3 separate regions of the Homo sapiens genome follow, and regions 2 and 3 are each linked to region 1. The links come from fine-mapping of genetic effects on gene expression. A gene starts in region 1. Each other region holds a variant in brackets. All regions are shown on one strand. Distances are between the middles of the regions.

Region 1 (10,418 bases):
GGGTTGGCACCTATGCGTGTGGCCCTCCTGAAATTTTGTGCCTTAGGCACCTGGCTTGCTTCTCCCTAATTCAGGCCCTCAGGAGAAAGCTCTAATTCTGGTCAATTTGAAACAGGAGGGCACGGCTTCTGGGCGACGCTCCGTGCTCCAGAGAGAGCCATTTGTCTGTTCCCTTCCTCTGGACGTCACCGTGCCAACATGAAATGCTTCCAATTGAGTCCAGCCTGAGATGGAAGGGGGTGGGGGGATATCTGATGACATCACGAACTGCTGCATCAACTCCCCCGAGTCCCTGCCTCTGGATCCCCTGATAGAGGACACAAGGAGTGTCCTGAGCCCGTGTGACTCAGTGTCTCTTCCCATCACTTTGCGGGAAAATGGGGCTGCTTACACCACACCGCAGCCCAAACACCTGTGGCTAGAGAAGGGCTTGGGTACTAGGAGTGAGGACGCCTGGTTCTGGGCCCAGGACTAGTACTAGTTAGTGGTGGGACCTGGAACAAATGCTTTGGTTCTAAGTGAATCCCCCATATTCATGACAAGAGGCGTGGAACACAGACCCATGGGGCCTTCCCACTGGAACAGGGAGCTTGGCTGTCACCCGACCTTCGCTTCCTTAAGTAGAAAAGCCCAGGGTTCCAGGCTCCGTCTCCTTTCCCGCAGACGCCTTGTTTCTTCGCGCGGAGGCCCTGGACGCCGCAGGCTCCCAACCTACTTCTCTGGGCTGTCAGGTTCTGAACCCGGTCCTGAAGAGGCCCTGGCGCCGGGGGTGGGTGAGGCCGAGCGCGCGCCTTGGGAACCTGGCCGGCCTCAGGCTGGCGGGAGCATTGGCGGACATCGCCCTGGGCGGGGCGGACTGGGGGTAGACGGATCTGCCTCTGCGCCTAGCCCTGCCCTCCGCCGCCGCGCGAACGCGCGCGCCTCCCCGGCTAGTCCCGGCAGGCGGAGCCCCAGTTAGACTGCTCGTCAAGTGTGGGAAAAGCTCCGTGGCGTCACAAGCTACTATATAAAAGGCGGTGCCCGCCGGGGCCGAGTGGGAGTCCGCGGCGAGCGCAGCAGCAGGGCCCGGTCCTGCGCCTCGGGAGTCGGCGTCCAGGCTCGGAGCGCGACACGGAGACTAGGTGGCAGGTGAGGACGTCCCCGCGCACGGCCGGGGTGGAGCACGGGAGTGGCGAGCTTCAGGTCCACCGGCTGCCACCGAAAGATGGGACCTGAAGACAGGAGAGGTCGCTCAGCCAAGAGCCCCGGGGAGGCGGTGGTGTCTCGGCGGGGTCAGCAACGGTCTGTGGGGGGTCCCCTGCAGCGCGCAGCCGGTTTCCGCCTCCGCAGCTCCCAGCCAGCGCGGACGCCGCCCTCCCCGGCGCCTCCTCGCTGCCCTTCCCTGGCCGAAGCCCTCCCCTGCAGCCTCCTCCCCACCTGCCGGCCCTGTGTTCTCACTGCTCCTCTCTGCTCTGGGATCCGCAGGATGACGTCTGTCCTGGTTCTTCTTCTGTCTTTCAAAGTCACTAGTCTCCAGTTCTAAATCCGAGCACTCTTACCCATTCTAATTCTTTCAGTAACTCAGCGAAACGGATGGGGCCCTTCCTTCCCCGGAGCACTCCTCCAGGGACTGAGAATCTGCAGAGCCAGGCTCAGCGCTCGCCTGCAGAGCCTGCGGTCTGTGGGACCCGCCAGCAAGATGAGGAATCACTTTCGGGAGGAAGGGTCGTGCTGGGGAGGGTCGCGCCGGCGGGGTCAAGAGAACCTCCTCTAGGGTGGGAATCAGAGCCTCCGGGCCGCGGTGTTTGAGGGTGAGTGGAATTAATCCCGTGATGGACGTGGGGCCTTCTAAGGGGGACCAGGAGTTTGCGAAGAGGTGACTTTGGGAGGGGTTCAGGATGGCCAGAGGTGGAGGCTGTGACCTCAGTGAGGCTGGATCAAGGGAGGGGCAGGTGGAGAAGAAACCGTTTTAACGAGGTGGCTTTAAGCGGATCCTAAGGGCCCCAGGAGATTTAGGAGGAAGGACAAGAGGATTAAGACACCGCTTTCTGGTCGGGTGCGGTGGCTCACGCCTGTAATCCCAGCACTCTGGGAGGCCGAGGCGGGCGGATCACGAGGTCAGGAGATGGAGACCATCCTGGCTAACACTGTGAAACCCCGTCTCTACTAAAAAAAAGAAAAAAAAGAATACAAAAAAATAGCCGGGCGTGGTGGCGGGCGCCTGTAGTCCCAGCTACTCGGGAGGCTGAGGCAGGAGAATGGCGTGAACCCGGGAGGCGGAGCTTGCAGTGAGCTGAGATCGCGCCACTGCACTCCAGCACTCCAGCCTGGGCGACAGAGCCAGACTCCGTCTCAAAAAAAAAAAAAAAAAAAAAAAAAAAGACACGGCTTTCTGAGGTGCCGTGCGGCTGTGGCGGGGGTGGCTGGGGGTGCGGGTTGTGTTCATTGTCCAAGGCTCTCCAGTGCTTTGCGTGGCGTTTTGGGGAGCACAGATGAGGTGTCCCGACAGTGGGGAGTGGCTCTAGGGAGACCAGAGGCTCGGGAGGGGGCCTGGGCATTAGACCAGGCACAGGATCCAAAGTGGGAAGAAATGTGGGCGTAGAGGGCAGGCCTTGGAGATGGGTGTGGGGGAGGAGGGGGAGATGGAAAGGAGTCAGGGAGGTCTCCCAGGCTCACCTGGAGGAGTCAGGGTCTCATTTCCAAGTGCACTGGGAACTGCAGCCTGGGGGTGGGGGTTCATTTGGTTTCAGGCCTGTGGCCAAGAGACCTACCCCCTCATATTCACACTTTGGCCTCCACGGGCTTCAGAGATAGTACCAGCTCTTTGTTCTCGCTGGTTTTCTTTCCTCACCTTGGGCTGTTTCTTGCCTTTTCCATTCTGGTGTTCTGCAAGGACCAGTTCCTTCATCTCATGCACAGTCTACACTCATGGCTTTTGCTGGGAGTAATGAGTAAAGCTCCCAAATAGATGTTTCTGAGTTAAAACACTGAACACAAAATGAAGCAAAAACAACGCATTTCCAACCTCCCAAGGTCACATGATGTCTAGAGGACAGTGATGGGCAATAACTTTTTGTCTTCCCCATTAGAATGCAAGCTCCACGAATGGAACGTGGAGTTTTTTATTTTTTATTGTTTTTTGAGACGGAGTCTGGCTCTGTCACCCAGGCTGGAGCAATCTTGGCTCACTGCAACCTCCGCCTTCTGGGTTCAAGCAATTCTCCCGCCTCAGCCTCCTGAGTAGCTGGGTCTACAGGCATGCACCACCACGCCCAGCTAATTTTTGTATTTTTAGTAGAGACGAGGTTTCATCATGTTTGCCAGGCTGGTCCGGAACCCCTGAGCTCAGGCAATCCGCCCGACTTGGCCTCCCAAAGTGCTAGGATTACAGGTGTGAGCCACTACACACGGCCAGAACATAGAGATTTTTTGTGTTTAATTCACAACCGAGTCTTCAGTGCCTAGAACAGGTGCTCAGTAAATATTTACTGAAGGAATGAATTCCTTTTTGTATTTCTTGTATCTATCACCAGATGCTCTTGTATCTAGTACCTGCTTGGCATACAGTAGATAGAAAGCTTTGCTGAGTGAATAGCTCTGCCTTTCGTCTTTTTTGATATGTGTACATCTTTTAAAAAATAATGAATAGACTTTGTTTTAGAGCTGTTTTGGTTTACAGCAAAACTAAGCAGAAAGAAAATATCCCCTTCCACAAACATCCTGGACTGTACAGCCTCCCCTACCATCAACATCCTGCATTACTGTGGAATATTTGTCACACCTGATAAACCAACATAGATTCATGGTTACAAAAATGAACCAATATGGATAAAACATATACATTATCAGCCAAAGTCCGGAGTTTGTTAGGTTTTGCTCTTTGTGTATATTCAAGATACATTTGACAAATGTATAGAGATGTACCCAACCCTGTAACGTCAGACTCCACTGCCCTAAAAATCCCTTGTGCCTCACCTATCCATCCCTCCTTCCCTGCAAATCCCTGGCAGCCGCTGATCTTTTTTACTATCTCCGTAGTTTTTCCTTTTCCAGAATGTCACATAGTTGGAATCATGCATTATGTAGTCTTCTCAGATTGGCTTCTTTCACTTAGATTTATACATTTAGGATTGCTCCAGGATTTTTTTTTTTTTTTTTTTTTTTGTGGCTTCAGAGCTCATTTCTTTTTAGCACTTAATATTCCATTGTATAGATGTACCACAGCTTATCTGTCCACCCATTAAGTGATATCTTGGATGCCCTCAAGTTTTGGCAATTATGAATAAAGCTGCTATAGACATTCTTGTACAGGTGTTTGTATGGGCATAAGCTTTCAACTCGTTTGGGTAAATACCAAGGTGTGGAGTTGCTTCATCTTATGGTAAGAAGAGCTTGGTTAAGAAATTGCCAAAATGTCTTCCAGACTCTAACATTAGGCATTCCCACTAGGAATGTATGGGAGTTCCTTGTGCTCCAGATCCTCATCAACATTTGTTGTTGTCAGTGTTCTGAATTTTAGCCATTCTAATAAATGTGTAATAGTATTTGTTTTTTTAAATTGCAATTCTTTAATGACATGATGTTGAGCATCTTTTCATATGCATATACATATGGTGAGGTGTATGTTCAGAGCTTTTGCCCGCCTTTAATCAAGTTGTACATTTTCATATTGTTGCATTTTAAGAGGGTTTTTTTTGGTATATTTTGGGTCACAGTGCTTTATCAGATATGTCTTTTGCAAATATTTTCTCCCAGTCTGTGGCTCGTGTTGTGAACGTGGCTAGTTCTCTTGACATACATATCTTTTCACAGTATGTAATCCTGTTGTGCTTTTTTTTTTTTTCCTTTTGAGACGGAATCTTGCTCTTGTCACCCAGGCTGGAGTGCAGTGGCGCGATCTCGGCTCACTACAATCTCCACCTCCCAGGTTCAAGGGATTCTCCTGCCTCAGCCTCCCGAGTAGCTGGGATTGCTGGTGCCCGCCACCACGCCCAGTTGATTTTTGTATTTTTTAGTAGAGATGGGGTTTCACCATGTTGGCCAGGCTGGTCTCGAACTGCTGACCTCAAGTGATCCGCCCGCCTTGGCTTCCCAAAGTGCTGGGATTACAGGCGTGAACAACCGCGCCCGGCCTGATGTGCATATAATTTTATTATTTGATTTTTAATATACATGAATAGCATGCAGTTCCAACTTTGCTCGAGACTTCACAATTACCATTTTAAAGGGCTGCAAAATAATCACATTTCCTCCTCAACAGCCCCACTTTACAGATGAAGGTAGAGGAATGCTAACTTGCCTATGCTAACCCGCAGAGCTCTGAATCCTCCGGATAGCGCCCCCGCTGTAATCCACCCAGTGCTTCCCTCCAGACCCTTCTCCCTCTCGTGCGCGCGGAGGTTTCGGTTTCCTCTTTTACGTAGGCCGCCCCACTCGCTTGAAAACAAAGTCCGCGATCCTCTAGCCCGCAAGAGAGCTCCGGGACTCAGACCCCGGGCGCGAGGTCCCACGAGCGGCGGGGCGGCGCTCTCGCGGTCCTCCTCCCCGGCAAGGGCCGGGGCAGGGGGAGGAGGCAGCGCGAACAGTCCACGCCCTCCAGCCGGGCGCGCTCGACGCGGACGGCGGGCCAGCTGCCGGAGCGCGGCGACTCCAGGGGACCCACAGCTGGGGCGCCAGAGCGCGGCCATCCGGGCGGGGCCGACGGAGCGCGGCAGGACTTGGCTGGACGGCGCGGCCACGGAGAAGGGCGCGGTGAGCGGACTGGCACCGCGCGGGGAACATTCCGGAGGCCGCCGGGCTCAGTCCCGGTGACCCCCCTGGTCGGGGTTCGCGCGCCCTCCCCCAGCACGCCCGGGCAAGGCTGCCGCGGCGTCGGAGTAATCCCCAACCCTCCGCCGCCGCTTCTTCCCTCACCCGGGCCTCCAGACGTTTGCCGCGGAAACGAAAGTAACGCTCGGGTGCTTGCGTGGAGGCCGGGGCGGCCGCGGGCTTCCCGGAAGGAGAGGGACTCTGCCCGGGGTGCGCGCGGCGGGCGGGCCCCGCCGGTACCGGAAGTCGGGCGGTGGGCGGGGCCGCGGGCGCTCCCGGAAGTCAGGGGTGCTCCGCTAGGTGTCTCTGCTTATCCGGAGTCCGCTGGCCGCCTCTGTGCCAGAGGTCGGGGCGCTGGACTGGTAGCGGGCGGAGACCTGCCTTTGGGCCGCGGTTACCGCGTGAGGGTGGAATAGGCAGTCCCACACGCCATTAATGTTGTTTTGGTGGAGAAGGTGGGCTCCTAGTGCCCTATCATTAAGAAAAAACAGTTTGGGCTCTTCCCTTACCAGCCCTTTGAAAGGGCCTTTTACTGTTGCGCTTGAGGCCGCAGCAGGTTCCAAAAACAAAAGCATTTCTGCGTGATCTTAGACGACTGAGGGGACGAATGTGGTAACCCTAGCAGGCTTCTGTCACTGGCAGGTGCTTTTGTGAAGTGCTGCGGACCCTCTTGAGGGTTGGGAAGAGGATAGGCTGCATCCTCCTTCCCTAAGCATTTGACAAAGCCTCACAGGGATGCGGGGGTTGCGGGGGCAGGGGGAGGTCTGGGGTTGTTAGTTCTTTCTCTCTTGCTGACCATTTGGCTCTCCCTTAATCAGAGCTCTTTTTTATTTTGGGCAAAGCAGGAGGCTGTTCCAATGATTAATTCTTCCCTGACTTACACTTGAAGAAGCCAAGGCAGGAAGTGAACTTTGAAATGTGCAATGTCTTAGTACTCATCTGCATTCTGTGACTGCTAGGAAGATGGACTGAGTCAAGAGGAAATTGTCTTGTTAGAAATGTGGAATACTGCGTCGGGCACGGTGGCTCACTCCTGTAATCCGAGCACTTCGGAGGCCGAGGTGGGAGGATCACCTGAGGTCAGGAGTTCGAGACCAGCCTGGCCAACATGGCAAAACCCTGTCTCTACTAAAAATACAAAAATTAGCCAGGTGTGGTGGCGGGTCCCTGTAATCCCAGCTACGCGGGAGGCTGAGGCAGGAGAATGGCTTGAACCCAGGAGGCGGTAGTTGCAGTGAGCCGAGATTGCCACTTACACTCTATCCTGGGCGACAGAGGGAGACTCTGTATCAAAAAAAAAAATAAATAAAGAAATGGGGAATACTGCAGCTCTTCTATTCACAAAAAGTGAAGACTAGGCTTGTTTAAAATGAAATTTGGAGTGTATCATTATTACTGATAAAATAGCAAAAATGATAACTTTTAATACTCATTTTCCTCTGTCTGAACTATACTGAGCCTCAGAGATATGTTGTACTTTCTGGAATGTGAATATTAATGAGTATTAAGAAAAGCTCTTAAACAGCCTCTTTCAAACTGGGCAGCTTACTTTTTGGTGCTTATTAATCTATAACGTGTTAACATCCATATGATCTGGGAATTTGAAGAAAATACTTAATTTCCCATGCTTTAGTTGGATATTACATTCTGGCAAAAAAGGTTGACTGTATTAATCTGTAGAACATTGATTTTGAACCATATATTTCAAAAATACATGAGCCGTGTATTTTTATTTTTGAGACAGAGTCTTGCTCTGTCACCCAGGCTGGAGTGCAGTGGCGCGATCGCGGCTTAATGTAACCTTCGCCTCCCGGGTTCAAGCAGTTCTCCTGCCTCAGCCTCCCAAGAAGCTGGGATTGTAGGCATGCACTACCATGCCTGGCTAATTTTTGTATTTTTAGTAGAGACAGGGCTTCACCACGTTGGCCAATCTGGTCTCAAACTCTTGGCAATCTGCCCTCCTTGGCCTCCCAAAGTGCTGGGATTACAGGCATGAGCCCCTGCACCTCACCTTCCTGTATTTAAAAAGTTTATTCTGTACTTTCTCCGTGTTTCTGACTGTCGCACATTTATTTAATATAGATGAGTAAGGCTGTAAGGGTGGGTCTTTGCATCTGGATTTTTCCGAAGACAGATTATTTGCTATCTAGAGAAGTAGCATGTATTAGTGAGCCAATAGTGAAAGTTTGAATGAAGGGACAAATATTTCATTCCAGGATCCTACCACTTTAGGTGAATCACTTAGCTCCAAATCTTAGTTTCTTTATTTGCAAATTGAAATCATGATAAAATTTGCTTCAGGGGTTATGATGCTTGTTTAAACTCTGTTTCAATTCTTGTCTCTTGCTGGTCCTTAAGTCTCTTCCTTGCTCAGAGCTTTTGTTTATCCAGGCAAAGCATCAGGCTGCTGTAATCAAGGAAGTTGGAGAAATCCTCTGGTCACTTGGATAGCTGAGCAAAATCAGAATTCTGTTAGTGGGAAGAAAGGGGGCAATGGCAGGTGGGCAACCAGCATTTTCTGCCATTCTCTTGTTATGTGTGGTCATCATAGAAAAATGGGGAAAAAGTTAATTAGAATATTTTGATATGTATACTTACCCTGCCTTAGAAGGTAATCGTGAAATTCCTTGAGATTTCACATTAATTTCAATAGAAACAAATTCACTGTCCTGAGTCCCTGAATTAATATTTATGCAAAACATTTACAAATTCCTTCAAATGGACGTAATTATTAGTTAAAATTATTTGCTATAACAGGCCAGCATGTCTTTGTCACTCTGTGTCATGGCTTTGTAATAATATGGTTATGCAGTATGGCCATATAAGCTGCCTAAATTCACTGTTTTTGTATATCCTTCAACTACTCACAAGGCCTTCCTAAGATATTCAGTGCTCATAAAGTTGAATCTTTCATGTGGAAAAAAGAGGGGTGGATAGGAAAAACAAAAGAAATCACTGAACACCATGCAGAAGATGCAGAAGATTAACAGACTAAACTAGCAAACCGCAAGACTGTAAGGAGAACTGACTTGGGTCAGGAGCTAAGCTCCCAAAGTCCAGTGGACCCAACTAGAGGCCTTCCCAAACTCCACCGCACACAGCAGCACCTGCAGGTCCTAGTTGGTCTTGACAAATTTGAGGAGATGTGGCTGAGACTGAAGAAGAGATACCAAATAGGACTCCTCATAAAGTAGAAACCTTTTACTCAAAAGGGCATTTTTCAGGGCATGTTGTAGTTCCTGCCTGTTTCTTTACTGTCTGTGACCTTTTTTAAATATTATTAAACATTCTTTCACAACATCGCTTTTGCAAACTGCTAGATATATTTCAGTGTTGATGGGCATAACTGATTCTCTCCTCTGTACATGCTAAGTGTTTTACCTACTTTTGCTGTTCTATGTAATGCTACCAGGAACAGCTTTGCACATAATCTTTATCAGCATCTCTGATTTGATCCCTCAGAGTAAAGAAATACTGAGTCAAGGAATTATTCCTTTCAAAAAAATAATTTTAATTTTACATTTAATTCATGTCTATTGTGGAAAATTTGGAAAACATAGTAAAAGTGTAAAGAAGAAAGTAAAAATCAACCTATCATCAAGATACAATCCTTGTTAACATTTTGGTGTCTTTATGTCTTTTTTATCTGTACTTATATCTTTATCTATTTACATATATATATATATAAAACACACACAAATGTGAATATAATTTTTACAGATTTATTCGTCAAAAACAATTTTGAATGGCTATATAATATTCTGTTAGGAGTGTGCCGTAATTCATTTAACAATATTTTTATTTTTATTTTTTTGGACAATTAAATAGTTCTCTTTTTAAAATAGTTATTCAATTGATGATGGGCCGGCATACGTTGGGTTCTGCTAGGCTCTGGAGATGGTGCACAAGACAAGTTTCCTGCCTTCTGTGAACTTCATGAGAAATAATTCTCAATTACAGTACTGTCTTACCTATGGAAGTGTCTAATGGGAAGACTTAGGATGGCTTCCTTGACAAAATGACAGTTCTCTGACACCTAACCAGGCAAGAAGTTGGAAGAATATGGCCTAAGAGGGTGGGGCGGATGACCCTTATGGAATGGGGAAGGCTTCACAGTTCTGCCTGCTCCAGTGATGTGTAGTGAATGAAAAAGGAGGCCTAAAATCAATGTTATCTTTTATGCCCTCTGTCTCCACCCGCTCCTACCTCATTCTCACTAGGATTGGTCAGTAGGGCCCTGCTGACAGAGTGATCCCAGCTGAGAATGTTGGCATTCTCAAAGCCCAAGGAAACAACACCCGTGTGGATAAACACATGTGGGCGGCTGGGCCAACCATAGCTAGAGACATAAAGCAGGCAACAAACGTGTTTTCACAAATATATACATATGTACATATATACGCATATACAAATATATACATATACGTATATACACATAGACAAATATAGCTATATATCTACATATACAATATATGCATACACACATACAAATATGTGTATATATACACACATATACATTTTTATATCATATATTATATATTACATATATACATATACAAATATATGTATATTTATACGTATACATACATGAACGTATACTTTTTTTTTCTCATAATCCTTACCACTTCTGT
Region 2 (10,418 bases), 20 kb after region 1:
AGACACACAGTTTCTATGAGTCTGTTGAGAAGTCGCTGTTTTGAACCTGCCCAGTGCAACCATTTCTGGAAAATTTACCGTACCTTATGTATAATGGATAAGCCCAAAATTGAAAGTCAGATCTGATTTGCTTACGGCCTTCACCAAACAATCCCAGTGGCTCAATGTCTTTCGCAGATCGCAGACCTCGGCCTTGCCTCCTTTAAGATGTGGAGCAAACTGAATAATGAAGAGCACAATGAGCTGAGGGAAGTGGACGGCACCGCTAAGAAGAATGGCGGCACCCTCTACTACATGGCGCCCGAGCACCTGAATGACGTCAACGCAAAGCCCACAGAGAAGTCGGATGTGTACAGCTTTGCTGTAGTACTCTGGGCGATATTTGCAAATAAGGAGCCATATGAAAGTAAGGCATTACTTACTTTCCACTGCCGTCCCCTCAGCATCTACACGCACTGTGCCTGGAACTAATAGGTGCCCAGTAAATTTTTGTTGAATGAATGAGTAATCCCATTTAGGAATCAGTGATCATAGGATGAATAGGAACCTCGATAGTGTGTCATTAGCTGGAGAGGTGCTGTGAAATTCCAGGGTTCTTCCTAGACAGGAAAGTTGATTGTTTCTGCTTGTGAGGACTTAGCCTTTCACACTACAAGGCATACACTTCATACTTTCACTCATTCACTTGCTCCTTCATTCAAGAATTATTTCTTTTCAGTCCCTACTGTGGGCACTTGAGTCGGCATTGGGAATATAAAGATGAGTAAGTCGTGGCTTGTGTAGGATAGAGACACTCTGCAGTTTGTTAAGTGCATAAACTGATGGATGTTGTCCTACATACTCTTCTTGGGTGATCATCAGCTCCCATGGTTTGATGATCATCTCTTTGCAAATGCTTCTTAAATCTGTGTCTCTGGCTCTGGAATGGATATCCACTTGTCTTACAGTCAGATCCATCGCAGGTACCAGAGGAACCTCCAAAGCAGCATCCCCCAAACACATCCTGTCGACACTGTCCTGCAGCTCGCCCCGCTTCACCCCTCTTCATATGCTTGGGAAGTGGCATCGCCATCCTTTTACCAAGTTGTTGCCCAATAAGAAACTTCAGAGTCATCCCAGACTCGCCCTTGCCCCTCTCTCCCACATTCTATCAGATCTCAAAACCTGTGAATTCAAGATATATGTATGACTCAAGATATATCTGCAACCCATCTGCCTTTCTCTGTCTCCACTGGCCTCTGCTCAGTTCAAACCCTCCTCGTTTCTGCAGCAGGCTCCTTCCACCGTCCACCATTCATGTGGCAGCCAAAATGGTCGTCCTAAAAGGCACATGCAACCCTCTCCCTCACATATTGGAAATCCTTCCCAGATGCTCTGTGGTCTTCAGGATGAAGTTCGAATTCCTCAGCGTGGAATAAAAGGCCTTCATGTTCTGGCCTTTGCTTCTCTACTGGCCTCGTCCCTAACCCTCCCTTCTTTGTCAGTGTGCAGTTACACTGAGGAATTTGTGGGATGCGTCATGATCTCTGTAACTTCTAGTCTGTTGATATCCTGCTTCTCTTCCTGGAGTCCTCCTCCTTAAGTCTCCCTTTCCCATTCTTTACCTGCTAATTTTTCTGGACTCAACAAAGCCTTCCTGGACCTTTTTAGTCAGGTTTGTGCTACTGGAACCCCTTGTACATCCTTTTTTTTTTTTTTTTCCCGTGAGACAGAGTCTCATTCTGTCGCCAGGTTGGAGTGCAGTGGTGCAGTCTCGGCTCACTGCAGCCTCCACCTCCCAGGTTCAAGCAATTCTTCTGCCTCAGCCTCCCGAGTAGCTGGGACTACAGGTGCACACCACCATGCCCAGCTAATTTTTATATTTTTAGTAGAGACGGGGTTTCACCATGTTGGCCAGGATGGTCTTGATCTCTTGACGTCATGATCCGCCTGTCTCAACCTCCCAAAGTGCTGGGATTACAGGTGTGATCCACCATGCCCAGCCTCAGCCTTCTTGAATAGCAATGATCACTCTGTGTTTTAAGTCACTCTCATTAAACTGAGCTCCTAAAGACAAGGACTGCCCTGTATTTGCTTTTGCACATGGAGCATGCCATTGGCCTTGCCCACATAATCTTTTTGTTCCATCAGCAGGCAGCTTTGTCGAGAATTTTGTTTTATCTGCAGACATTAAGATATTGTTTGGTCATCTCTGTAGTGGAATATGTCAGCTCCTTGTCATAAGGCCATTCCACTCTATGGAATGAGGCAGCTGTACCAGAGGCTGAGAAAAATGAGCAGTATTGTTCAAGTTCTGTCACCTTCCTGCCTGAGAGAGGAGCAAGACCTGAAAGAAAGTCTTTGCTTTGTAGATGCTATCTGTGAGCAGCAGTTGATAATGTGCATAAAATCTGGGAACAGGCCAGATGTGGATGACATCACTGAGTACTGCCCAAGAGAAATTATCAGTCTCATGAAGCTCTGCTGGGAAGCGAATCCGGAAGCTCGGCCGACATTTCCTGGTAAGAGCATCTTTTCTGACTGTGTAGGATGCATCCTGTGTGGTGATTTTCCTAGTAACATATTGTTAGGAACTTGGTTTGAATCCTCAGAAAACTGAGTTCGACTTGACTTGTGGTTTTAAACTGATTTTCTAGATTTCAAACATGTTATTCAGTGCAAAGAAGCCCTCTCTCTCAAAAGCATGATGGCACATAAGGCCTTCTTGTTTCCTTTTTTTGTAATTAACTTTTTAACTTGGGTTTAAATATACGTAACATGAAATTTAACATTGTAACTGTTTTCAAGTGCACTGTTCAGGGGCAGTAAGTACAGTCCCATAGTACATTCACTTTCCATCGTCTCTCTCCCTGCCCCTGGCAGCCCCTATCCTACTTTCTGTCTCTGTGAATTTAACTGCACTGGGTGCCTTATATATAAGTGGAATCATACAGTATTTGTCCTTTTGTGTCTGGCTTACTCCACTTGGCATGATGTCCTCGAGGTTCATCTGTGTTGTAGCATATGTCAGAATTTCTTTCCTTTTCAAGGCTGAATAATATTCCATTGTATGAATGGAGTGCATTTTGTTTATCCATTCGTCCGTCTATGGGCACTTAGGTGGCTTTGACCAGCCTTCTTGCTTCTTCACTTCTTTTATTTCCATCCCCTCCCTTGTTTAGCTGGCATCTTTAGAAAGTATTTTGCCGTCTAGATTGGCCTTGTCATACAGGGATGAGGAAAGGTGCCGGGATGTTTGCTGAGCAGTATTCTATGGTGTGGATGTACCACGGTTTGGTTAACTACTCACTCCTTGAAAGACTTGTTTCCAGTTCTTAACTGTTGGGACTAATGCAGCTGTAAATATTCGTGGACATGTTTTTGTGTGAATATAAGTCTTCATTTCTCTGGAGTAATACCCAGGGGTACAATAGCTAGGTTGTATGGTAGTTTCATGTACAGTTTATTTTAAAAATTCCCTAACATTTTCCCAGAGGGGCTGTGCCATTTTATGTTCGGTGTCCGAGTGATGCAGGTTCTTGTATCCTCACCAGCATGGGGTACCCAGGCTCCTCACACTTCTGCTTAGTCAGCTACAAATTTATTTGAGTATTCCCACAAGCCCCACTTCAGGTTTGGTAATTCGTTAGAAAGACTCACATAACTCAAGAAAACATTTTACTTACGTCTCCCCTTTTACTGCAGTGGGTACAATTCAGAAACAGCCAAATGGAAGAGATGTACAAGGTGAGGTATGGGAGGAGGGTGTATAGAACTTCCATAGCCTTTCAAGACACACCGCATTCCAGTGCTTCTGTGTGTTCAGCAACCTCAAGCTCTCCAAGCCTCACCGTTTAAGGTGATTTATGGAAGTTCCATTACATACGCATGACTGACTAAATCATGGTCATTGGTGCTTGAGCTTAATCTCCAGTCCCTCTCTCCTCACTGGAAGTCAAAGGTGGAGCTGAAAGTCCCAACCTTCTAATTATAGCTTGGTCTTTCTGGTTGCTAGCCCCCATTCTGAAGTTGCCTAGTTTTCTGACCCCACCCAAAAGACACTCTTAGAAGACTCCAAGGATTTTAGGTGCTACCTGCCATGAACAAAATCAAACCTTCCTGATTCTCCAAGGTGTCTTCTTTTATTGTTTCCTTTCTGTTTAGAGAACTTTCCTTAATCATTCTTTTAGGATATGTCTGAACTCTGTCATTCTAAAATTTTTTTCCTTATAGGGAAGGTGTTATTTTTCTCTTGCTGCTTTCAAGACTTTGTCTTTATTTTTCAGAGATTTAGTTGTTATTTATCTTGGTGTGGATTCCTTTGGGTTTATTCTGTTTAGGTTTTGCTCAGCTTCTTAAATCTGTAGGTTTATGCCTCTTAAACCATATTTGGGGAGCTTTCAGCCATTATTTCTGTAAGTACTTTTTAACCCCCACCCTCTTTCTCTTTTCTTTCTGGAATTCTGACAACATAAAAACTATATCTTTGGTTATGGTTATAGTCCCACAGGTCCCTGAGGCTTTGTGTTTTTTTTGTTTTTTTTGTTTTTGTTTGTTTTTTTCAGTTAATTTTCTCTCTCTTATTCAGACTGGGTAAGTTCTATCATTCTGTCTTCCAGTTCACTGATTTTTCTGTTTCTCCTCGATTCCACAGTTGAACCTGTCTACTGAGCTTTTTTTTTTTTTTGACACGGACTCTCACTCTGTCGCCCAGGTTGGAGTGCAGTGGCGCAAGCTCTGCCTCCTGGGTTCACGCCATTTTCCTGCCTCAGCCTCCCGAGTAGCTGGGACTACAGACACCCGCCACCACACCTGGCTAATTTTTTGTATTTTTAGTAGAGACGGGGTTTCACCGTGTTAGCCAGGATGGTCTCCATCTCCTGACCTTGTGATCAGCCCGCCTCGGCCTCCCAAAGTGTGGGATTACAGGTGTGAGCCACTGTGTCCGGCCTACCGAGCTTTTTATTATGTTTTGGTCATTAAAGTTTTCAGCTCTAAAATTTATATTCTCCCCTTTTTTGCTGAGACTTTCTATTTTTCATTTGTTTCAAGCAGGTTCATAACTATTAATTGAATCGTTTTTATCATGGCTGTTTTAAAATCCTTGACAGGTAATTCTGACATTGCTGTCATCTCAGTATTGGCATCTATTGATTGTCTTATTTCATTCAGTTTCTGATTCTTAATGTAATGGGTAATTTTTCTGTTGAAACTTGTACATTTTCTTCCTATGTTTGGAGATTCTGTATCCTCTTTAAGCCTTCTGTTTTAACTGAACTTTCCTGACACTGCTCTGACAAGGGAAGAGTGGTGGCCACCTTATTAGTGCTGGGTAGAGGTAGAAGTTCAGCCTCTCGACTCAGCCCTTATTGACACCTAAGGTCAGAGGCTCCTCTTCACTGCTGATCAGGGGTGGGAATTCTGGCAGAGTCCACACGGTCCCCACTGACACAGAGGTGAAGGTACCTCATTACTACTGGACAATGTTAAAAGTCCCGATTCTCCACTAGACCTCCTCTGACACTTCCCCAGTGGGGAAGGGAAGGGTGGTCTTGTTACTGCCATGTGGGGCAAATCCAGGCTATTCTTGTGTTCTCCTGACACCATGGGAGTGGAGGCGCTCATTATCAGCTGGCAGGTAGGACAGCCCTGGCTTCCTGTTGGGCCTTCTCTGACATTACCCCGGTGGGGGTGTTGGGTTACGTTGTTACTGTCTCATGCGGTTGGATGTTGAGGCTCTCCACTTGGCCTTAGCTGCTGTGGGTGGGGTTGGAGCCACAGGGTTTTTTCTGTGGTGGTTGGCTGGAACAGAGTGGTTG[C/T]TGACTAAAAGTTTTCTCCTATCCAAGTACTAACCAGACCTGACCCTGCCTAACTTCCAAGATCAGACAAGTTTGGGCATATTCAGGATGGCATGGCTGTAGACTGGCTAAAGGTTTTCTGTCTGTCCCTTGCTGCCCCTTGCTTAGTTCTTTGGCTAGAAAGAGCAGGCTTTAGTTGGAGATTTTTTTTTATCTGTGGCTCTTGATGGTTTGAGGTTGCCACCTTTTCAGCCAAGTCTGAGATATATGAGGAAAAGAGAAAATCCAGTGAACTCACTATCGTGTGTTTCATCTGATCCCGAGGTTTCCTGCTGGTCTGCCTCCTTCTCTTCTCCTTTCAGAGACTCTGTATGTTTGTTTTATAAATAATATATAGGATGTTTTTGTTGTACTTAGAAGGAAGATTAAGAAAAAAGTATGTCCACTCCATCTTCCTGGAACTGGAAGTTTCTTTTTTCTTTTAAGGCTAACAGCTGTAACCCATTACACTAAATCCTTCCTCTGACTATCCCAATCTCTCATAAATTTGATGCCAGAGGAACAGAAACATGGAGTTCGCCCATCCCTGTTCAGCTGGAGATGAACTCACATCAGGGAGCAGTTTGTGTTGCAGCCAGAGAAACTGCAGCACGAATAAAAAGCACAAAGAGCACAGGCTATTGAGGCAGAAACCCCTGGTTTCCTGTGTTAGCCTATCCCTTGTTCTGTCTATTAATCTTATTAGTCTCTATCAGAGTCAGTGATTTGGAGCTTAAATTTTTATTTAAGCTTTGCCCACAGATTGAGGTAAGTAATTCAAAGATAATAGATGGCTAATATTTTTATTTTATGTTAGAAAATAATTAAGAAATTTAAAGTACATTTTACTTTTACAGGCATTGAAGAAAAATTTAGGCCTTTTTATTTAAGTCAATTAGAAGAAAGTGTAGAAGAGGACGTGAAGAGTTTAAAGGTAGGCAATATAGCAGATGCTCAAAATATTAACATAGCAAAATATATACTGTCAATCATGAAAACCAAAACAAAGTGATTTGTTATTGAGATTTGAGGTAAGCTAGCTTGGTAAACATATAAAACAAAATGAGCAATTGTCTGCACATATCATCCTGTTGGCATACTGGACCCATTTCTCCTTCAAAACTCATGAAATGAGAGAAAACATATATAGCAATATGAAAACAAAAGCACAATGTCACTGGCAAAGATTGGAAAGTACCATAAGTGGATCAGCCATTTTGAGGAATTCTTGAAAGATAGAAAGACCACAGAATTATTCTGCTGAGACATATAACAGACAAGGAATACTAGCCCAAGACATAATGCTGAGGAAGAAGTACCGGAGGGGCAGTCTTGGGTCAGTGTGCAGAAGCAACAGCACAGTCACCTGGGATGTTGACAGGGGAGTCATCTGAGAACCTCATTTATGCTATTTAGGAAAGTCGGCTTCTCTCCCTCCTTCCCCTGTACTTAGCAACAGATGGCAGCAGCATCTGCCCAAGACTGAAGCAAGGAGGTGGTTTCTGGGGTTAGAGGGGCATGACAAGGCCCAGTTAGGAACCAATCAACTAAGAGGAATGGAGACCACCCCGCCCCCCTGCCAACTCTGGAATCAAGCTACTGCCATCCATCTTCCAGCAACCTACCCCATAATCATGAACAGGAGACTACGACAAATAAAACAGGCAGAGACTTTAAAATATAATTTAAAAAAGAGATTAGAATCAGCTAAGATAAACTCTAAGGCAAAAAATCATTCCCTCAAACAATCAGGAATATTTCATAATGATAAAAGGCCCAATTCATCTGGAAAGTATAACCGCTTTAAATGTGGATCCACCTTCAATAACATGACCTCAAAATCAACCAGCCAAAAGTGACAGAACTCAAAGAAAAACAGACAAATCCACAATTAAAACTGAAGATTTTAATACACATCTCTCTTCAATTGATAGAACGAGCAAACAAAAATCAGTAAGGATATAGAAGACAGAAAGAACATGACGAACACACTTGACGTAACGGAAACACAGGATACGCTGCACCTAATAACCGCAGCGCACCTACCTGCCGCACCTAGTAACCGCAGAGCGCCTACCTGCCGCACCTAGTAACCGCAGCGCACCTACCTGCCGCACCTAGTAACCGCAGAGTACCTACCTGCCGCACCTAGTAACCGCAGCGCGCCTACCTGCCGCACCTAGTAACCGCAGCGCGCCTACCTGCCGCACCTAGTAACCGCAGCGCGCCTACCTGCCGCACCTAGTAACCGCAGCGCGCCTACCTGCCGCACCTAGTAACCGCAGCGCGCCTACCTGCCGCACCTAGTAACCGCAGCGCGCCTACCTGCCGCACCTAGTAACCGCAGCGCGCCTACCTGCCGCACCTAGTAACCGCAGAGCGCCTACCTGCCGCACCTAGTAACCGCAGAGCGCCTACCTGCCGCACCTAGTAACCGCAGAGCGCCTACCTGCCGCACCTAGTAACCGCAGAGCGCCTACCTGCCGCACCTAGTAACCGCAGCGCGCCTACCTGCCGCACCTAGTAACCGCAGAGTACCTACCTGCCGCACCTAGTAACCGCAGCGCGCCTACCTGCCGCACCTAGTAACCGCAGCGCGCCTACCTGCCGCACCTAGTAACCGCAGCGCGCCTACCTGCCGCACCTAGTAACCGCAGCGCGCCTACCTGCCGCACCTAGTAACCGCAGCGCGCCTACCTGCCGCACCTAGTAACCGCAGCGCGCCTACCTGCCGCACCTAGTAACCGCAGCGCGCCTACCTGCCGCACCTAGTAACCGCAGCGCGCCTACCTGCCGCACCTAGTAACCGCAGAGCGCCTACCTGCCGCACCTAGTAACCGCAGAGCGCCTACCTGCCGCACCTAGTAACCGCAGAGCGCCTACCTGCCGCACCTAGTAACCGCAGAGCGCCTACCTGCCGCACCTAGTAACCGCAGCGCGCCTACCTGCCGCACCTAGTAACCGCAGCGCGCCTACCTGCCGCACCTAGTAACCGCAGCGCGCCTACCTGCCGCACCTAGTAACCGCAGCGCGCCTACCTGCCGCACCTAGTAACCGCAGCGCGCCTACCTGCCGCACCTAGTAACCGCAGCGCGCCTACCTGCCGCACCTAGTAACCGCAGAGCGCCTACCTGCCGCACCTAGTAACCGCAGCGCGCCTACCTGCCGCACCTAGTAACCGCAGCGCGCCTACCTGCCGCACCTAGTAACCGCAGAGCGCCTACCTGCCGCACCTAGTAACCGCAGAGCGCCTACCTGCCGCACCTAGTAACCGCAGAGCGCCTACCTGCCGCACCTAGTAACCGCAGAGCGCCTACCTGCCGCACCTAGTAACCGCAGCGCGCCTACCTGCCGCACCTAGTAACCGCAGCGCGCCTACCTGCCGCACCTAGTAACCGCAGCGCGCCTACCTGCCGCACCTAGTAACCGCAGCGCGCCTACCTGCCGCACCTAGTAACCGCAGCGCGCCTACCTGCCGCACCTAGTAACCGCAGAGCGCCTACCTGCCGCACCTCGGAACCGCAGAGCGCCTACCTGCCGCACCTCGGAACCGCAGAGCGCCTACCTGCCGCACCTCGGAACCGCAGAGCGCCTACCTGCCGCACCTCGGAACCGCAGAGCGCCTACCTGCCGCACCTCGGAACCGCAGAGCGCCTACCTGCCGCACCTCGGAACCGCAGAGCGCCTACCTGCCGCACCTCGGAACCGCAGAGCGCCTACCTGCCGCACCTCGGAACCGCAGCGCGCCTACCTGCCGCACCTCGGAACCGCAGCGCGCCTACCTGCCGCACCTCGGAACCGCAGCGCGCCTACCTGCCGCACCTCGGAACCGCAGCGCGCCTACCTGCCGCACCTCGGAACCGCAGCGCGCCTACCTGCCGCACCTAGTAACCGCAGCGCGCCTACCTGCCGCACCTAGTAACCGCAGAGCGCCTACCTGCCGCACCTAGTAACCGCAGAGCGCCTACCTGCCGCACCTAGTAACCGCAGAGCGCCTACCTGCCGCACCTAGTAACCGCAGAGCGCCTACCTGCCGCACCTAGTAACCGCAGAGCGCCTACCTGCCGCACCTAGTAACCGCAGCGCGCCTACCTGCCGCACCTAGTAACCGCAGCGCGCCTACCTGCCGCACCTAGTAACCGCAGCGCGCCTACCTGCCGCACCTAGTAACCGCAGCGCGCCTACCTGCCGCACCTAGTAACCGCAGCGCGCCTACCTGCCGCACCTAGTAACCGCAGCGCGCCTACCTGCCGCACCTAGTAACCGCAGCGCGCCTACCTGCCGCACCTAGTAACCGCAGCGCGCCTACCTGCCGCACCTAGTAACCGCAGCGCGCCTACCTGCCGCACCTAGTAACCGCAGCGCGCCTACCTGCCGCACCTAGTAACCGCAGCGCGCCTACCTGCCGCACCTAGTAACCGCAGCGCGCCTACCTGCCGCACCTAGTAACCGCAGCGCGCCTACCTGCCGCACCTAGTAACCGCAGAGCGCCTACCTGCCGCACCTCGGAACCGCAGAGCGCCTACCTGCCGCACCTAGGAACCGCAGAGCGCCTACCTGCCGCACCTAGGAACCGCAGAGCGCCTACCTGCCGCACCTAGT
Region 3 (10,418 bases), 470 kb after region 1:
GAGAGGGAGAGCATTAGGACAAACACCTAATGCATGCGGGGCTTAAAACCCAAATGATGGGTTGATAGGTGCAGGAAACCACCATGGCCCGTGTATACCTATGTAACAAACCTGCACGTTCTACAGATGTATCCCAGAACTTAAAGTAAAATTAAAAAAAAAAGATATCACACCCAATGCAGACAATAGTTCTAAAATAAGACCATGCCTTTCAGCTGATAGGTTACCTTAATGACATTTTCATATTTTCAATGTAGGACTTTTACAACTGTTATCAAAAAAAGGGGCTCCTGAGCTCTGGCTGTCACCATGGACGGGGGTGATGCATAATGTCCAGCAGGTGCTTCAGAAGGGGGGCTGTGCTGTGGAACCCAGGGCCCCGTGCCAGCTCCCCCACAGTGCTTTCTGTGTCAGGAGAACTTGGCTCTGCATGGACTGGACAAGCACAGGTGGCCTGGATGGACCCTTTCTTATCTCAGGCCTTGGTCTTCGCTCCTCTTCAGGCCTTATCACAAAGGCAGGAGCGGGACATGTGTTCCTCATTCTTACTACAGGCTTGTGTACAAGCTATTGGTGCACAAGTCTTCTCTGGCTTCTCGGAGGACATAGATGGATTTCCCATCTCCCCAGTGGCTAACCCTTGGCTTTGGGACGATATCTAGAGGAGTGCAGAGGAGGATACATTAAAGAGCGCTCTGGCATACAACAGGAGATCAATAAATTGACATCACATAAAGAAAGCATTCAAAGTGGATGAAAAAGTCAGTGAGACACTCAGAGGTGGAGCTGTCCCCAGACCCCGTCTGAAATGGCTACCTGGTGACATGGTCCTAGAGAGGTGTCTGTGGGCTTTTGAACAAGCATTAAAAATCCCACGTTTCGGATGACCTCCAGGATCCTACCTGAGAGTGTGTTAAGGGCCCCCAGCCCCAGGGGCAGCTCTGAGGGTGCAGCATGGCTGGGATGAGAAGACTGGGGTTCAGGGAGGCATGCTCGTGTGCTTATGACCCACATTCACATGGAAGAAGAAGGTGAAGTCCTAGCAGGGCATTTGTTTCCCTTTCTCCTGGAGTGACGTATTCACAAAGGGTCTGCGATGAGCAGGGAGGGTGCGTGGGGGTGTGCCAGCCTTGTCACTGTGCTCTAGTGGTTGTGGCTGGCCACTCCACCTGCACTCGCCCTCTGTGCATACATTTGCTTGTGGTATAACCTGAAGGAATATCAGACCCTCTGCTCTTAGGAGCAGATGCTTTCCCTTTGGGTTTACTTCTGATTCCCAGGTTCAGTGACAGCTCTCAGGAAGCCATGCCAACAGGGACACACACCACTCCAAAGCAGGGCATGGCCCCCAACAGGAATGACAGACAAGGGCTACAGGGACAGGGTGAAGTCAGCCAGGAAACCGACATTTCCATGGACACAGAGCCCAGATGGAGCACCATCTTATCTTTGCTATTTCAGGCCGGTATTTTCAGGAAGTAAAGTGTACAAATTATGGACAAAGGCTGCAGGTGTGCAGCCATAGGGCAGAGAAAGGATCTCCACTCTGGTGTGGAAAGGAAATCACATTGTTTGACAAGGGTTAGATCAGAGAGAGGCAGATATGTGCCTCAGCCCCGCTTGCATTCCTAGTCATGGTTTACTCCACAGGAGCAATATGGATTCATCCCAGGAACGCTCGTTTTCTTCGTTCTTTGTTGTAACAGGAGCATTATTGTGAGTGGGGTGAGGGGAGTTCAGAGACTTCACAGTTCTGCACCAAATCTCTGCCCCGTTATCTAAAACCTTTGCAATGGTGGGGAAGTTGCTCAACTTCTCTGTTCCTCATGGTTTTATTTGAAAAGCGAGGATAGAAATATTCTCTCTGTGGGTGGGGTTTATACCTCAATAAAGCTGTTTAAATGAGTAAAATAAAATCCACCTTAAAAAAAATGAGCCGTGTTTTGTGAGAGTACCTACCTAGCGTGATGCTTGGGATGCAGAAGGAACTAGATCTACTTTGGCTCAGCTATTGATGGTAATTTTTTGTTGCCTCTTTTGCCGTTGGATGCAAACTTCTTCTGGGAGTTTGCTTCCTTCTCTTCCTTCCCATTTCCCTCTTATTCATTTTTCTCCTACCTCCTCCCCTGGAGGAAGCCAGAATATCTTAGTCCTGAGGAGCTCTAGTCCACTGGAGAGGTGGGTGACGCAAGCTCACTTTCACTCTGCATGATCCCTGGGGATCTCAAGGTCTGGAGTGGGTCCGAGTTGAAAGGAAGATCTGCAGATGTCAAGCCCAACAACAAGGCCTGCTGACAGGAAGGGCGAGGGGAGACAGTCAGGAAGCCTGGAGTGGCCTGTTCATTTATTTCTATCCCCTACCCAAATATCTTTTAAATAATGCTTCTCCCCGAGTGAATTTGCCAGGAGTGAACTATTGGGGGGATGAAATGTGCAGTAATACTGTCTCATTGCTTTCCATAGCCATTACCTGCCAATTCAGGATGTTTGATAGGTCTTAGGCAAAGAAAGAAAAACAAAAGTCTCTTGCGACCATTGGACAGCCACTGACAGAAGAACTAGGAACTGAATGTGAGTTGGTAATTAAAGGGCCCAGAAAGAGGGAAAACTCAAAGGACTCCAGGGAGTATGGAGTTGGGATTTCATGAAAGAGAGAAACTGTCTTTCCAAATGTTTGCCAGGGGCTGCTTTTTATACCTCTCCATTCCCTGATTTGAAAAAGCATAAGGTGTACAAAAGAGAAGGGAAAATATCCCTGCCCAGTGTGCCTTGGGCCTCACTCCCCTGTGTCCAGTCCCTCTTCCCAGGAGTAAAGCTTTGGGAATCTTATTAGACTTTTTACTCAGACTACAACTCAGAAGCGCAGAGAAACATGTAGATTCTTTGCTCTATCGACATCTAATTTTGTCGTCCTACTGAGCCCTACCCACTGCTTAGCAGGGGAAACATTTCTAATGATGCTATATTTTTAATTAAAAAATTATTTAAGTTAATGTCTAATGTGGCCCAAATTTTGATCTGAAAATGTAAACAATTTCTTCAGGTAATTTTCACTTTCTTAAGGCAAAACATGCCCAGACTTATGAATTGCCTTCCCCTCCCCATTTCTGCTGGCTGGGTGGAAAAGCAGGGGCAGTTAATGACCTCTTGCAAGACAGAAGGCCTGGCACTCTTGGGCTGTGTCCCCATGTGCCTGCTGGCCACTTCCCCCTGGCATCTGCAGCAGGCACCTGGAGTGTCACTCACAGCTTGGTCCTCCCCTGGCTTGTGCAGAGCCTAGGAGAGGCTTCCCCTGGCAGAGGAGAGCTCATCTCAGCACCACCGTCTGCAGACCCCCAAACCTCTCTCTATCTTGTCCACCATCCATGCCCCTCACCTGGAATCCCCACATCCCGCCATAGTAGGCCTGTGGCCGGCCAGTGCATGTCCACCCAGTGTCAATGCCGCATGACGCTGAGGCCAACCCAGGGCTGCCCTTGCCTGTGTGGCTGTGCCCCCCGGGTTGACATGGCCACTCCTGAGGCTGGGGAGTGAGCACTTCTTTTTTCTTTTTTGAGACAGAGTCCCGCTCTGTCGCCCAGGCTGGAGTGCAATGGCACGATCTCGGCTCACTGCAACCTCCGCTTCCCTGGTTCAAGCGATTCTCTTGCCTCAGCCTCGTGAGTAGCTGGGATTACAGGCGCCTGCCACCACGCCTGGCTAATTTTTGTATTTTTTTTTAATAGAGACGGGGTTTCATCATGTTGACCAGGCTGGTCCTGAACTCCTGACCTCAGGTTATCCACCCACCTTGGCCTCCCAAACTGCTAGGATTACAGGCATGAGCCACTGCGCCCAGCCGGGAGGGAGCACTTTGCAAAGTCCTGGAGAGGCAGCAGAGGAAGAAGCCTGCTGTAAAAGTGTCACTTTCATTTAGTGAATGTGCTTCTACCGCTCTGGGCTCAAGCCAAGAAAGGAGAAAAATAAGACCTGGACTTCTGACCCAGAGGCCCTTCTCTCTTCCTTTCCTGTCCTCCGCTCCTCTCTCCTACCTCAAACCACCGTTTGCTGAATTGCAAGTCTCCTGGTTTAGCTGACAGAGGGACTAAAGGAAAGACGCCTCTTCTCTCCAACACAAGAGAGCCCTCAGGGGGATAAAAACCTCTGGAGCATTCTCTTTCAAGACAATAACCCAGCTTACAAATTATCTTACTGATTAGGCTTATTCTGCGTGACTATTTGTTTGACGAGAGTTAGATCAGAGAGAGGCAGATACGTGCCTAGGCCCTGCTTGCATTCCTAGCCATTCCTATCTTTTCTCTTTGTATTCTTCCTGCAGCAAACCCAGATCTTGTCTAGGGATGGGATGCTAATGGTTTATGTACTTAGGCAAAAGTGAAAAATTCATCAAGAATATTTCAGATATAATCCTGGTAGCTGTGTGTGTGAATGTATGAGTGTAAATACGTAACACTTTAAAACAACAGACTTACTCTAGACGTAAGTTCTGCAACTTGCTTTCTTCACTGAATAAGTCTTTCCCATCTTTCCATATAGGTACTTGTAGACCGGCTTCTTTTTAATGGCTTCATGCTAATCCTTCGTAAGGACACAATATACTTTATTTAACCCCTTTCCTTTAATTTTGGATGTTTCTAGTTTTTCTTTTTTTTCTTTTTTCCTACCAAGAACAATGATGGTGAGGCTATGCTGGTGCATTCATGTGTTGCTTCCTGCCTAACTCCCCAAATGCAAAGAGAGTAGGCGCCTTATCTGCCTTTGTCACCACCTGCCTGGAACAGAACATACAAACAGATGAACAGAAGTGGATGAACAAACACAGTAAATGGATTCATCCTAATGGATGGAAGGGTTTATCTTTTTGTTCTCATGCACATTTCTGCAGAATACATTTCTAGAGGAGGAGCCATAGAGTCAAGGGCTCTGGATCCTTACATTTTACCGTGTGTCACCACACTGGGCTCCAAGCCTGTGGTACTGATTCACCTGTCCTCCAGTGGGTGGAGTACCTAGAGAGCCTGCAGCAGGGCTGTGTGCAGGTGGCTTTGGGAAACAATTCCAGGGAACGGGAGTGTGAGAGAAGGAAGGTAGTCAGAGGCAGAGGGGAAGCCAGTTCAGGGGAGAGTTACCAAGCTGATCCCCACTGAGGGCATGGAGAGCTCCTTCCCCCAGAGACCTTCTGAGGCACTGTGTAGAATGTGCCTCAGCATTTTCCCCTGGGCCACGCACAGGAAGAACATGTGCGTCCACCTTCTGAACCTCAGCAGTCAGAGATCCCTGGACATAGGTCAACAGCTTGCAGCCGAC[C/G]CTGGGGCGCCCTGGTTTATAAAGCAGTGAGGTGGACCCTAGCTGTGTAGACTCCCCTTAGCAGACTCTACTGAAAGCCCAGCACTGGCAAGAGGGGGCAACTCTACTTTTGCTCAGCTATTGATAGTGATTTTTTGTTGCCTCTTTTGCTGTTGGATGCAAACTTCTTCCTGGAGGAATCGCCAAGGGAGGAGGGTGGAGCCCCCACCCCACGTGCTGAACACACAGTGTGTGTGTGTGTTTCTGGGGATCTATCTGTGGATTTCTCTCTCACCACCAACCTTGATGCCACCCACACCATCCCGTGGAGTGACAGCTGAGGTAAAGGTGAAGCTCTAAAGTAGCCCATAGGGCCGAGATTGCATGTAGATTAATTGCAGTTGAAAAATCCCCCAGACTGACCATAGAGCACAGTGGATGGAATGCTGGACTCAGTGAGGCCTGCGGAGACCATTTTCCCTCCATCATTGGATTTAATCTGTTTTTCCACTTCAGTACTTGGGAGCGGAGGGTTGTTTTCTTCAGGGGCGGTGTTGTATAAAATATACGTATTTAACATTAGACCTACACTCGGTTCGGTGAGTGTCTCATACCACGCAAAACCCGGCAACCAAGGCTTGCAGGATCAGTGGAACTCCATCTTCTGATGGTGTCCACGCCAGGTGTGGAGGGCAGGTTTGCTGGCACTGTCTGTATTATAGTGTGCTGGGGCTGTGTAACAAATACACAGACTGGGCAGCTTCAACAACACACATTTACTGTCTCACAGTTCTGGAGGCTGGAAGTCCAAGATCAAGGTGTCAGGGGGGTTGGTCTCTTCTGAGGCCCCTCTCCTTGGCTTGCAGATGGCTTTTTCTCCCTGCACCCTCCCTCTGTGCATGTCTGTGTCCTCATCTCCTCTTCTTACAGGACACCAGTCATGTCGAGTTACAGTCCACCCCCGTGGCCTCACTTAAACTAACGCCTTGAAGGTCCTATCTCCAAATACAGTCACTCTCTGAGGTACTGGGGGATGGAACATCAACAAAGGAATTTTGGAGAACATGATTCAACACATCACAGTGCTGAAATCTCTCAATCTTTCTCCTCAGAGACACTTATGAAATCTCAATTGAAATCTCTCAATCGATCAATCTCTCCCTCTCTCTCCCTCTGTCTCCATCTTTCTCCCTTTCTCTCTTTTCTGCTTATCTATCATCTATCAATCAATCTATCCATCTGTCTATTTGTCTGTCTGTCTATCCATCCATCCATCTATATCTATCATCTATCTATCTATCTATCTATCATCTATCAATCATGCACCTACTTATATCTATCTATCCTGTATATCTGTCTATGTCGTATCTCTCTACCATGTATATCTACCTCTGTCTATCATTTATCTTCTGCCATGTCTATCTACCTATCATCTATTATCTAGATATCTAGCTATCTTTTCCTCTGTCTATGTCTCTTTCCCTACTCCCCTTTCTCTCTTTCTCCTCAGAGACCACTTATGAAAGGAGGCCACATGGATTTCCTTATTTAATTTTCACAACACCCTAAAGATAGACATTATTCTCCCCATTTTATATATGAGGAAATGGAGCACCTTGAGGTTAGGTAATTATTCCAAAATGACACAAATTAAGTAAGCAGGAAAGCTGGGATTTGAGCTTGCATAACCTGACTCCAGAATCTATGCTTGGAACAGTAAAGGAGGCTGCTTTTTGAAGTATTTTTGACAATTTTTGCATTTTTTTGATAAGAGTTTTGGCCACATTCCATGGACTTTGAAATGTAGAGTTCTTTTTTATGTTATCTTCTAATTAATTAATCTTAGTATAATTATTTAATCTTTAATTTGAGAGTTATTTATAAATGCTTTTAAATTTCTAGGTTAGATGTGGAGGGCTATATTTTGTTGCCAGAATGTGGTATGTTCAATTGCTATTTATCTATCTTTGCCTCTGAATTTGTCAAGATTTTCTTTAAGGCACAGTCTATGAACAATTTCTATAAATTATCCATTAACATTTAGAAAAGATTTTCTGTTTTGTACAGAAATAGTATGTCTACTAAACAAAGCTTATTGTGTAAGCAATTCAAATGCTCTAATCGTATTAACTCTTTATCTAATGAAATTATTAAATTTAGATATAAGTGTTTTAAAGCTCATTGTGATTTTACCAAAATAACCTTGAATTCCTAAATTATTTTTCTTTCAATAGAAGTAGGTCTCTGCAATGTGATTTGGTGTGTAAGTGTATATGACTGCCACAATTTCTTTAGAGATATTATCTTTTATCAATAAAATTCCTCAGCCTTATTTGATGTTTTTGACTATAAAATGTGCTTTGTGTGATGTTGGTATTTTTGCCATTTGTCATTGTTAGCATTTTCCTGATATATCCTTGCCCACTTCTTTATTTTCTACCTTTTTCTCTTTATCATTTTGTTTTAGGTATGTACCTTAAAATACCATTTAGCTAATTTTTGCTTTTTTATGTTGTTTATTCTTTTATTTTCAAATATAAGACATAGCAAGGGCAATAATTTGTTCCATGTACATTATTACTTATTGTGATTAACGTCATATCCAATCTTTCTCCTGCCTTCTTATTTTATGTTTTCTATTCACTATGATTTCTTATTGCTTCCTCTTTTCACCTTTCCTGCCTCTTCCTTCTTTGATCATTTTTTGTCCTTTTTTCTTCCCCTAGCAATATGAAATATTACATCTAAGTGTTATTCTAACAGTGGTCACCTTTATAACAAATGTATTTTATTCTACATGATTCTATCAAAGTTAAGTAAACATTATTCATAACCACCAGCCCTCATGTAAGCCAAGAATTGTAACATGCACTTACTTCCCTTTTCTTCTCCTTATCACTTGGGTTATCCTAAATGATCTAGAATTTAATTCATATTTCTCCCTCTAGTATCCATTCCTTAAAAAATAGCCTTGGGGGCTGGGCATGGTGGCTCACGCCTGTAGGCCTAGCTACTTGGGAGGCTGAGGCAGGAGGATTGCTTGGGGTCAGTAGTTAGAGACCAGGCTGGAAACATAGTGAGACCCCATCTCTACTAAAAAAATTGTTAAAAATGAGGCTGGCATTGTGGTGCATGCCAGTCATTACAGCCACTCCAGAGGCTGAGGTCACCTGAGCCCAGGGGTTCAGGGCTGCAGTGAGCTATGATCCTGCCACTGTATTCCAGCCTACACAACAGAGTGAGATCCTGTTTCAAAAAAAAAAGAAAAGTTTAAAACGCATTAATTTTCAATATTGCATGCAATGAGAATTTGGAAGTTGCAAGCAGTTTCAATATCTTAGGGTGGTGTATAAGTCAGGATTCTCCAGGGAAATGAAACCAATAGTATATAATGTGTGTGTGTATGTATGTGTGTATATTTATAATATATATATACATATTTATTATTAGTATATATAATATAAATACATATAATTGTATATTATATATATGTGATTTATTATAAAATATTGACTCAACCAATTATGGAGGCTGAGGAGTCCCATGATCTGCAGTCTGCATGCTGGGGACCCAGGAAAGCTGGTGGTTTAGCTGGAAGGGCTGAGACCTGGAGAGTCGATGGTGCAGATTCCAGTCTGGGTCTGAAAGCCTGAGAACTAGGAGCACCAGGGCAGGAAAACATCAATGTGCCAGCTCAAGCAGCCAGGCAGAGAGAAAATGCTTTCTTCCTCTGCTGTTTGTTCTACTGAGGCTCTCAATGCCTCAGATGAGACCCACCCATCTTGGGGAGGGGAGGGCCCTCTGCTTTATACAGTCCACCAGTTCAAGGCTAATCTCTTCTGGAAACACCCTCACAGACACACCCAGAATAATGTTTAACCACACATCCGGGCACCCTGTGGCCCAGACAAATTGACACCTAAAATTAACCATCACAGGTGGAGAAAAAAAATCATTTTTGGTCAAATACTACTCTTTATCCTGGGATAAAGAGCCCCTTTAAAAGTCAGGTAAGAAAAGTATCTGCTCATTAGGGGAATTTGACCGGCCCCAAATTTTATTTTCAACAGTGTTCTTTTTAGTGTTCAGTTCCTTGATTTAATGTTGTACTTCTTCGATGATCGTTCTCTCCTCTACAACTATTTTCTGTATACCTAGTTGGTTCTAGGAGTTTTTGTTGTGGTTTTATTCTTTTAGGTGTCACTGTGAATACCAGTCAGAATTTATAAAAGATATCTTCTGTTTCCTACAGTAAATCTTTTTAATTGAAAGTCCTTCAGACCAATTGCCTGGTTTAATTTCCTTTCTGTTTGCTCATTCTCCTCAAGAGTCCAATAAGTTACCTTTGCTTGATTATATTCATAAATTACAGTCTAGCCTGGTAGGACTCCATCAGCATCTTGTATAGGTTTGTATGTCATTCCTTCTCTAGCACATCCTGATCGAAAACACTCAAGCCCCCATCCCAGCGAGGATACTAAGTGGGAGAATGTTCCAGAATCAAGGAGGGCAACCAGCTACCTACTTGAGAGGCTTTGGGATGTTCCAATGGCTCCCTACACACCTACCAAAAGCTGATTCACTTAACACATTGCATCATTGTGTGTCAGTGAATAAGGTTGTTATATAGTTAAATTTAAACTGTGTTCCCTCTGGCTGATAGTTTTTCAAATTGGTAAAAATGACAGAAGGTTTCCTTCCTTTCAGTTTAGTTGTCATTCTTATGATTCCTTTTTATAGGTTTCTGAGAGGGTGTTTAAAAATTACAGGCATATTCTCATTATTCTTAGAAGTCTTCCAACATCTTTTAACAGAGTAGATGTGTCTTTATGTACATTAATGTACATGATTTAATGATTCAAGTTATTAACTTAAAACCTGAAGTGCACCTAGGTATAGAAAGGAAGTGTCACATACTATGAAGAATCCCTGGGCTGGGATTTAGATCTAGAGTCCAGTCCTGGCTTGACACAAGCTGTGTGACTCTCACAAATCATAGTCAGGCCTCTGAGCCCAAGCTAAGCCATCATATCCCCAGTTACCTGCACATATACACCCAGATGGCCCGAAGCAACTGAAGATCCACAGAAGTGAAAATAGCCTTAACGGATGACATTCCACCATTGTGATTG

Evidence for each region. PIP is the estimated chance that this variant, and not a neighbour inherited with it, causes the effect.
Region 2: its variant is the best candidate, but not a certain one, in a credible set for the expression of RIPK1 in tibial nerve (GTEx, PIP 0.78).
Region 3: its variant is the best candidate, but not a certain one, in a credible set for the expression of RIPK1 in anterior cingulate cortex (GTEx, PIP 0.88).

Annotation. Positions count from the first base shown.
Region 1 is chr6:3,062,932-3,073,349 of GRCh38, forward strand. It overlaps RIPK1 (receptor interacting serine/threonine kinase 1), which reads left to right and starts at 5,563. Exons shown (of 11, transcript NM_001354930.2): 1 at 5,563-5,730. RefSeq lists silencers at 709-758, 789-1,078, 1,269-1,378, 5,432-6,221.
Region 2 is chr6:3,082,908-3,093,325 of GRCh38, forward strand. RIPK1 (receptor interacting serine/threonine kinase 1) reads left to right here. Exons shown (of 11, transcript NM_001354930.2): 5 at 178-406; 6 at 2,352-2,501; 7 at 6,674-6,750. It also overlaps the pseudogene RNA5SP201. Among named protein-coding and RNA genes, the nearest start is that of RIPK1, 20 kb to the left of the region's middle. The variant C/T (reference allele first, on the strand shown) is at 5,799.
Region 3 is chr6:3,537,235-3,547,652 of GRCh38, forward strand. No RefSeq gene overlaps it. Among named protein-coding and RNA genes, the nearest start is that of SLC22A23, 85 kb to the left of the region's middle. RefSeq lists an enhancer at 2,896-3,396. The variant C/G (reference allele first, on the strand shown) is at 5,308.